2 linked regions of the Homo sapiens genome follow. The protein of the gene in region 2 interacts with the protein of the main gene of each other region in a pairwise test. Each region holds a gene or a part of one and is shown on either strand. Other genes may lie near its edges.

Region 1 (4,405 bases), on a different chromosome or scaffold from region 2:
CTTAAGTTCATAACCTGTCTCCAGACCTGTTACCTTTCAAATACATCTGCTTGGAGCTTCAGCCTGGAAGCTAAAAACCTTGCTACTCCAAAATGTGGTCCTCAGATCAGCAACTTTAACATCATTTCGAAGCCTCTTAAAAATGCACTCTCATACCTACCGAATCAGATGTTTCATTGTGACAAGATCCCCAGGTGATTCATGTGCAGGTTAAAGTTTGAGAAGCACCAAAGTAAAACATGAAACTAACCATGTCTTCTCTTATTTAAAATGCATCAAAGACCCCCCACCCTACCCCGCATTGCTTTCATGATAGAGCTCAAGCTTTTGAAGGTGATCCACAGTCCACATGACCGGGCCGTGCCTCCTTCCCTGCCACTCTGTTTATGGGCCCCAGAAGCACCGCTCATACCAGGCCGCTTTTTGCCTCCATGTCTTCACTCCTCTCTCCTCTCTCCTCTCTTCCTGAAACTCCTCTTCCTCACTCTTCTCGAGGCTAGACTGGATGACTGGCTTAACACACTTTATTTGAGAGAGAGGTTGTATCTTAAGTTTGAGATTCTGTGTACATCCTATAATGCAGGATGTACCCTCTCCAGGATACCCTCTCTGAGTTCTTCATGCTCCTCTCTCCATACACGCCAAGCTGGGGTCCCTTGTCTTAGCTCCCTTTTCCATGCTTCTCACAAATGTTATGTATGGATTTTACTCCCCCATTAGCCTGGAGAGCGCTTGAGTCTACCTCACTCATTTTTATATCCCAGGGCATGGCTCAGCATCTAGTAGGCACTCAATAAATGCTTGCTGCAGACTGACTCTTCCCCCAGGCTCTATGCACCTCTCCACCTGCCCTCTCTCCTTGGGATCCTGGGATTGTTTTTCTACCCTTAGATTAATGAGGCCCTTGGGGTTGCTCCTGGCAGCAAGGCTGCCAGCAGTAGACCCAGTGCTGGGAAAAGTTCAGCGAGCTCTGGGATTGGCTGGAGAGACTGGCTCTGCACTTCCCATCTTCCACCTTCCCACGATGAACACAGGCTTCAGGCCCCTCCCGCTGTTGTGCAGTTTGCTCCTCAGCCATCCCAGGGAGGGAGACGATGGGGTCTTCCCTGCCTGTTGTGCCTTTGCTCCCAGAGCCATAGGAGGTAACTGCTAGGGATCAATTGGGGATATCCTAGGCAGAGGGGAGAGGTGAAAAGCCCGGGACTTTCTCATTAGAAGGCGGGACCTGCCACTCCGGGATGGCAATGTCAGTAGAGCACCTTCTCCTGGGGCCAAACACATGTAGGATGGTCCCCAGTAGGTTCCAGCCATTGAGAGCCGAAGAACCCGCTTCCCTGCTCCATCCCTGTTTTTCAGCTATGCTTGCTGCCACTGCAAGTAGGAATAAGCCCCTGGCAGTTCCCTGAATTAAGTCTCAGTGCAATCCCTTTTCTCGTTGGGAGCTAGGGAATTGCCAGACCTCTGGGCTGTGGTCCTGGTGGGGGCAACCCAGGCTGAGAGGAGTCTGGAAAGGTGGAGCTAAGTAGGGAAAGGCGAGGTGCTGCACTGGCCTTCAGGTTCCCGGGGAGAAGCAGTTGGTGGAGCACAGGCCTGCAGACATGCTTCCAACCTGTCAGTACAGGCCTGGTTGAGTACCTCTTCTCAGACTAGGAGAGGGGACAGGGAACCGAGTGCTCCCAAGCCTTTCTACAAAGGATTTCCTCTCTTCCACGGGTCAGAGGCCAGGAATATTTCTCAGACTAAATGGAGTAATAGCTGGGGGAATAATAATAATAGCATTTAGATAGTGCCTGCTATTAGGCACTGTTCTAAGTGCTTTAAATATATTAGCTCTAACAACTCTCCCAACAATCCTATGATTGATTTGATTCTCATTTAACAGATGAAGAAACTGAGGCACAGAGACGTAAAGTCAATTGCACAAGTTAGTAAATGGCAGAGCCAGGATCTGATCCCAAGCGAAGTGGCTGCGCAGCCCCGCTTGTCAGCATTGCCTCTCAGAGGGGAATGCCTGAATCTGCAGTTTTCCGCCGCCCACTCACATCCTCACTGTTACTCCCCTGCCCCATTCCTCTGAGGCCAAAGCTGCTGCAGACATGGGATGGGAGGAGAGGAGCCTGGAAGGTCCATTCCACTCAGGAGTTGGGGGAGCAGCACTCAAGGCGGCCAGGGGCCCCCGGCAAGAGCCACACAAAACCCTGATGCCCTGGGAAGGATGGAGACCCCCGATGTTTTGATTCTGAGGAGAAAGGACAAGTGGATAGACAGACCTGGTCTGGGGAACCTGTGGTTCGGGGGAAGCAGGAAGTCACAACCCTAAACTGGCCAGTCCTCCAGGCCCTCCTGGTTGTAAGTGACCACTCTAGAGGGTTCCTGTGTTCCTGTAAGCCCCCACTTCTAAACAGCCTAGCTCCTCACCACCCTCAAGTTTGGGGCCATTAGAGGAAAAAGGGAAGCCAAGCAATGAGAGAATAGGAACCCTCAGAGCCACCAAACCATGGGAACATCCCCGGTGAAGAGCCTTGAGTTGGCAGGATGACCTCTCCCCATCTCAGCAAGGGAGCGGGACCTGAAAGCTGAGGGTCTGCACTTTCTGGTCCTGCCTCCTGCTCAGGATCTGGGAAGTGGAAGGAAAAGGCCAGGGGACGCTGGCAGGGGAGGGGTGATGCCTCACCAAGTCCTTGGAGGTGCCGAGCCTCTTGAGGCTGTCCAGCGGGAGCAGGTCGGCCGAGTCCTTGTGCAGGAACTGGGTGGCCTGTTTGAGCCGGCGCTGCTGGCTCAGGTGGGCTCGGTCTCGAAGCTGTGCCTCCTGCCCCCTCGTCCTGGCTTCTCCCTCATCTCTCCTGGCCTCCTGCTTGGTGCTCATGGCCCCTGCTGGAGGAGTGGGCCAGGGGCTGCTCGGTGGGGGCGTCACCGAGTCCTCTCTGCTTCTTCCTGCCTGTCTCTGTCCCGTGCTGCAGCTCTCTTTCCAACAGGAGGGTCTCCACGGGAGGGAAAGAGGAAAAATAAATAACATGCAGGAGCAGCCGCGTCAGTCTCCAATTTCCCGAGATTGCTGTAGAGGGAGTGAGACTCCGGCTGGAAAAACCCAGTCCTAGAAGAGAGGGAGGGTTGGCAGGGCCCACAGCTGGCTGACTTGGCCGCATCCCCAACGCTGGGGTCCTGGTCAGAGCGGGCGGTGGATGGGGCGTATGTGTGTGTGTGTGTGTGTGTGTGTGTGTGTGAGAGAGAGAGAGAGAAGGAGAGTGAGAGACAGTGCTGTAAACTGTCAGGGTGCCCGTGCCAGGTGGTTTGCGAGGAAGCGCTTGTCACTGTGTGGGGGCAGCAGCCTTAGTGCACCTCCCAGCGTGTGTGGCCCCCGCCCTCCTCTGCATCCCTCCCAGGCTTCCCAGGACTGCCCAGCTGTTTTCTCCTGGCATTATCTGCAGCCCAGGGCTGGCGCGCAGGCCAGTAACTGGGTTCAGATCAAAGAGGGGCAGCATGAGAGCGTCCTTCCCTCCTCTCATCCCCCTAGCCTTACCTTGTTAGGTCTCTTGCCTCCCGCCTAGCAGATGTCAGAGTCTTTAACTAATTGACTCTGGATTCTGGGTTCCAGGGAATGACAGGAACAACTCTGAATCTTCCCACGAGTAGAAATTGTCCCTGGCATCTCAGTCTCCTTTATATGACTCTCCTCAAGTCCTGGCTCTTTAAAAAATGTTGCATTTCAAATATACAGAAGTTATAAAGAATAAGATAACCAGTACTCTTCACTCATCACCAGTTTAAAAAATAAGCTGTTGAAGCTCCCTGTGCACTTCCACTTCCGCCTGCTGAAATTGGTGTTTATCAGGCCCAGACTTCTTTATATTCTTTATGCAAATACTTACATATGCATTCTAAGCAATATGTCGTTGGTTTTGTCCTACTCACTGTATTTATTCTTCTGCAATCTGCTCTTTTTTGCTGAATAGTTTTTGTTAGTGAGATTCATCCATACGGTATGCCCAGCTCTAGTTAATTGACTTCACCTGCTGTGTAACATAGTATTCCATTAGATGCATGCATGACATTGAGGAAATGTAGGTTATTTTTCATTTTTAGGTCTAACAAACAATGCTGCTATGAATATTTTTGCACACATCTCCTGGGGCACCTATGTAGGCATTTCTCTAGAGTATACACCTACACCTAGGAGTGGAATTGCTGGGGCATCCCATATACAGCTTTGCCTTTTTGGCATATTGCCAGAGTGTTTTTACCAGTGCACACTGAGACAGCTGCACACAGGGGCTCCTGAGGTTCCACATCCTCTCCAGGACTTGGTATCAGACTTTTTCTAGCCCTGGCTTATCAGCAGATTTTTCTCTCCAGCCTTTCCTCTTCACCATCAGGGAAACGCATTGGCCAAGCACCTGTTTACCTG
Region 2 (4,603 bases):
ATTAAAATATTTTATACTTATCTTTTTACATAAAAATCTTTAAGAGTCATTCCATATTTCAATGTAATTTTGCCCAAGAGAAATATCACGAGTTGTGCAGAGTGGGACATATGTAAAAGCTGCCATGGACAGATGGCGGCCCTTTTCTTTTCAGTGCCCTGAGAACTGACCCAGCAGCTGACAGCAATCCTACTGGCAGAAGATTCCCCACATTTTTCTAGCCATTGCTGGTGACTGTTAATAAAACCATGGCTCCCTGCTTTGAAGAGACTTCTAGGGAAGGCAGCCGGTCATATTTAATAAACTGTTATACTTCATTTGTCATGCTTCAGTATTTTAAAAATCTGGCTTCAAGAGAAGCATGATGGCAGATGAAATCTTATATTGAGGACTATAAATATATGGCAAATACCTAAAAAATAGTAGTCTCTCTTTTGTCACATATTCAAGAGAAAGTACTTAAGAGGTAAAACCTAAGACACAACAGAAAAACCTAAGATACAACAATACAATTAATCTTGTAGTCTTATTCTGGCACTAACGATCACAATTCTGATTATAAATTTTTATGTACAGTGGACGTTATTATACCCATTCGATAAATATTTCTTGAACCCTGTGTGCTAGGCACTGGGCATAGAAAAAGGAAGACATATTTATAAAAATGATGAAATACCTTCATAAGAGCCAAGAACCTGTCCAAAATATTGACAGCCAGGACAAAAGTTTCAGTGCAAGATCCAAAAAAGTTGGCTAAACTCCTTAAATCTTCAACTTTGGCATTTCTCAATCCTGGACACAAAGTGTTATCATTCTGCAATAAAAACCAAGAACCAAGGTTTACAATTTTCTTAGAACCAGATGAAAAACACATACAGGTCCAAAGAATAAGGTTAATTTTTTCCCAAGAATAAGGTTAATTTTTTTCCCTCAATCTTCAAGAATATAGGTGGAAAGAGTGGTATCGCTTAACTAAAGCTATACACTTTATCATCTGTAAGACGTAAATCACTGCTTCTTAAAAATACGCATCATAAAAGAGCTTCAGCAATTCAATATAAGGTGAACTGTTGCAAGATTTCAGAGAGTTATAGCAAATATAATTCAATTCCCTTGGAATGGAGAGAAAGGGTTCTTTTGTTTGCTTTTCTAAAGTCATTTAAGATTCTACTATAAATATGTATTTCACAGGCAGAGGGTGTTTGCACAAATGAACTACTCAATTCACCCGGGGTCTCCCATCCTGAAGCTGCAGGCTGGAGTATGGGGGGCAGCGAGGAGGGTGCCACATTAAAAACAACAACAAAAAACCCCACTTCTCTAAAGTATCACTCTCATTCTTGCTAAGAAACAAAAGCATTAACCTGTAATAAGGTTTATCTTGGTACTCCAGAAAGAACAACTTTTAAGAAATTTTGCAGGCTTTAGTCATGATTCAACGGGGGCGGGGGGGTTACCTCCTCCAAGCCCCATCAGCTGCTTGAGCAAGTTATCTTTTCTGCCAACTTACCTCCGGGGTAGCCTCAATCAAACTCAGCCCTTTTTCTCGAGGTTGGAATCTCTCTTCTTGTTCCAGGTAGACGTTCAACAACCCGAGAAGTTGGACCCCTTCATGACCTGCCAAGTGCTCTGCCCCCAAATCCTTCATCTGCAGTAAAGACACCACACAGAGAATGTAATCTGGGGGTAAGAGGGGTGGGGAAGCGGGAGAAAGGGCTGAGGCCAGTACCTCCAGCAAGGGTCGCCCCAGCACACCCCGACAAGGAGCGGGTGAAGGGACCAGTCACGTCCGCCAGAGCCCCAGGGCAATCCCCACCACGGCCAGGGAGGTGTGGCAGGGGGAGGAGCCGTGGTCAGGTCCGCCGGCCAGCGCTGGGTAAGACCGGCCAGCCCTGGCCTCTTGGCGTTTCACAAACAGGAAACTGTCCGCGGGCGCCGGCGTCCCCTCGGTCTGCCCCACCTGAAGTCGCGCCAGGGAGGGCCTTCTGCCCAGGGGACTGCAGTGTGGCGAGCGACTGCAGCGGGTCCCGGGGATGGGGTGTTGCACAATAGGGGGGAGGGGAGGGAGAGTCTCGCGACTGAACAAAGAAGCGGAGGGAGGAGACTCCCGAGCCCCGCCCGCCCGGGGCGCCCAGCTGCAGAAGCCCCTCTCGGAGAGTCCCGCCCCCAGCTTTTCCCGTCCGCTGCTGCAGCGCCGATTCCGGACTTACCCGAGAGGCGGATACCCCCGTCCCAGGAGCCCTGGGGTGGCGCGGCACACCCGGCTACGGTCCGGGGAGAGAAGTCCAGTCCAGCCCGCCCGCCCCGCGCCCGTAGGGACAACACCCGTCCACCCACTGATGCCGGGGCCCCACAACTCTGCAGAGCCCCGGGGCTGTCAATTCGAGAAGCACCACGCCAGCAAGTCCCCGTGACAACACGAGCGGGGGCGGGGGGCACCGAGGCGGAGACTGCCCTTAACCTAGTCGCAACCTCCTTCCACCCCACGAGCATCTATCTGTCCATCGCGGGCGCCAGCTCCCCCCGGGGCTGGGGCTGAGGGCAGCACCCTGGTCGCTCCAGCGGATGAGGAGCAGGCAGCACCGAGGCACTCGCATGGTACCAACCTCCTCAAAGCCCACAGTCCCCACCACGAACAAAGAAACCCACGGCGGCCCTGGGCGGGTCCACTCACCGTGCCGGAGACGCGCCTCCACCCGCCCGCGGCCTCGCGGTCCGCACGGACTGGGCGCAGCGGGGGCTTCCAAACCTGTCTCGCAGGTCGGGGACCCACCGCCTCAGCGGTGCCCCCGGTCCGGCATCCGACCCTTCCTCCCAGGCACCGCCGCCTCGGCCTCACAGCCCCGGCTCCATCCCGCTCCCCGCGCGCCCACCCTCCGCCGCGGCGCAACGCCGGCCGCGGAAGACCAGCCCACCGCCGCACCCCCGCCGCCTCAGCGGAAACCTCCCCGAGCCCCTTGTTTTTGTTAAGAGTTTCGACGCCCCCAAGGGGGCGGGGCACGTGACTCCCCGCGGAGGGATCCTGCACTTCCTCCACGGACTTTAAAAAAGAGTCCCGCCCCTAAGCTGCCGTCTCGAGCCTCTCTCGCGGCCTCCCTAGCTCTCCTTGGCTTTGCCGAGCCAGTCCTCCCGCCTGGCGCTAGGGCGGAGAGCGGAATCTGGGCGTCGGGCTTATTCCGCGATTGATCTGCGTTGGGGAACGGGGGAAGACAGAGGGGCGGAAGGAGATCGTTTCTGGTCTCATTACGCCTTTTAAAGGTCCCCGATTTGTTTTGTTTTCGCTGTTTTGAAAAGTCCGCCCAAAGTAGCCGGCTCTCTGATTGGATGCGGGTGGGGCGATGGGCATGCTGAGGACCTGATTCACCCTCGAATCTGGATTGGCTAACTTATCAGTCTTGGAGCCCTCTGATTGGCTTTCTCCGTAGCCTGAGCCTCTCTCTGCCTTGGGGCCTTAGCAACTCCAGGGTCTGGATTGCGCATGCCTGGGTGTGCAGCGGAGAAGGTATTCAGTTACCTGCCCTGCGGGGCTGTGCCTTCTCGCCTGGCTGCCTCCGCCTTTCTTGGGGGAATGTCACGCTCGCGGCGCTTCTCCTAACAGCTAACCTTTGTGACAGCCTTTTCAGCCACGGGAGAGTTTTCTACATTCCTTCTTTATTTTGTCTTGGCGTTCCATTTTGCAATAACCCACCAAATTATTATAACATTGTCGGGGCGTTTACTAAAATATTCAATAAATGCTACAAGTTTGGGTATTTGCTTTAAAATTTTACAGTCCAAGAGAAAAAAAAATGGAGAAGAGAGGTGAAATAAGATAGGCAAAAAGTTGAGGGTCGAAGCTGGGTGATGGGTACTCGAGGCTGCATTACAGTATTCTTTCTAGTTCTGTGTCTTGGAATTTTTCCATAATTTAAAAAAATTCAGGAGGGACTGAAGGAGGGGCTTTTCAATAAAAACTTAGCACGCTGATGAGGGTACGTAAACATCTAATAATTACGGCGTACCTCCAGAGGTTGTAGTGCTGTTGTTTTAATGAAGACTCCCAGAGCTTCTTGGTCCTTGGTAACCCATAAATTATCATTTATTGTTCATTATAATTAGCGTTGTTATTATAGGCGACACGTCTCCCAGGACGGGACAAAAAGCAAACAAACCAGGTGCCTTAGGCCAGAGACACTTTCACACGGAATATCAATGGGGCATGTGGTTGACTGCCCTGGAACATTTATTTGTTTACTCTCTCCCTCCTAAATTAGAAAATACCATATTCGTGAGTTCTAATCTACATAATCAGATAGTCCCTGGGAAGAGATTTCTCCTTTCTGTTCTTCTATGTGTTTTCTGTGAATTATTTTGTTACTTGTGAAATATGGGAAGGCACACAACATAGCTTTGGCAGCGCTCTTCTTTGCGGAGCAGCTAAGGAATTTTAAAACTAGGTCCCTTTGCATATTAGCTCGGACTAAACACAGGCATCTGTTTGGAGCACAGAGCAACTGGGGGAAGGCAGCCCAAAAAGCTAACACTTATTTCAGAGAGGTGTGAGCTTGGTGAGGGTTTTGGAAAATAAGATAAAATTAGCACACCAGTTTTAAATGATTTACAG

Evidence for each region.
Region 1: the proteins of CCNG2 (region 2) and NRIP2 interact in a two-hybrid assay, tested with the Homo sapiens proteins (one large-scale study listed by BioGRID and IntAct).

The regions. Positions count from the first base shown.
Region 1 is NC_000012.12:2,831,968-2,836,372, forward strand, and holds the start of NRIP2 (nuclear receptor-interacting protein 2), read right to left. Parts: upstream 3,069-4,405; 5' UTR 3,017-3,068; coding exon 2,675-3,016; intron 250-2,674; exon of another isoform or gene 1-249. UniProt on the Homo sapiens protein: Down-regulates transcriptional activation by nuclear receptors such as NR1F2.
Region 2 is NC_000004.12:77,155,578-77,160,180, reverse strand, and holds the start of CCNG2 (cyclin-G2), read right to left. Parts: upstream 2,975-4,603; 5' UTR 2,675-2,974; exon of another isoform or gene 2,117-2,674; intron 2,018-2,116; exon of another isoform or gene 1,730-2,017; intron 1,649-1,729; coding exon 1,511-1,648; intron 815-1,510; coding exon 677-814; intron 1-676. UniProt on the Homo sapiens protein: May play a role in growth regulation and in negative regulation of cell cycle progression.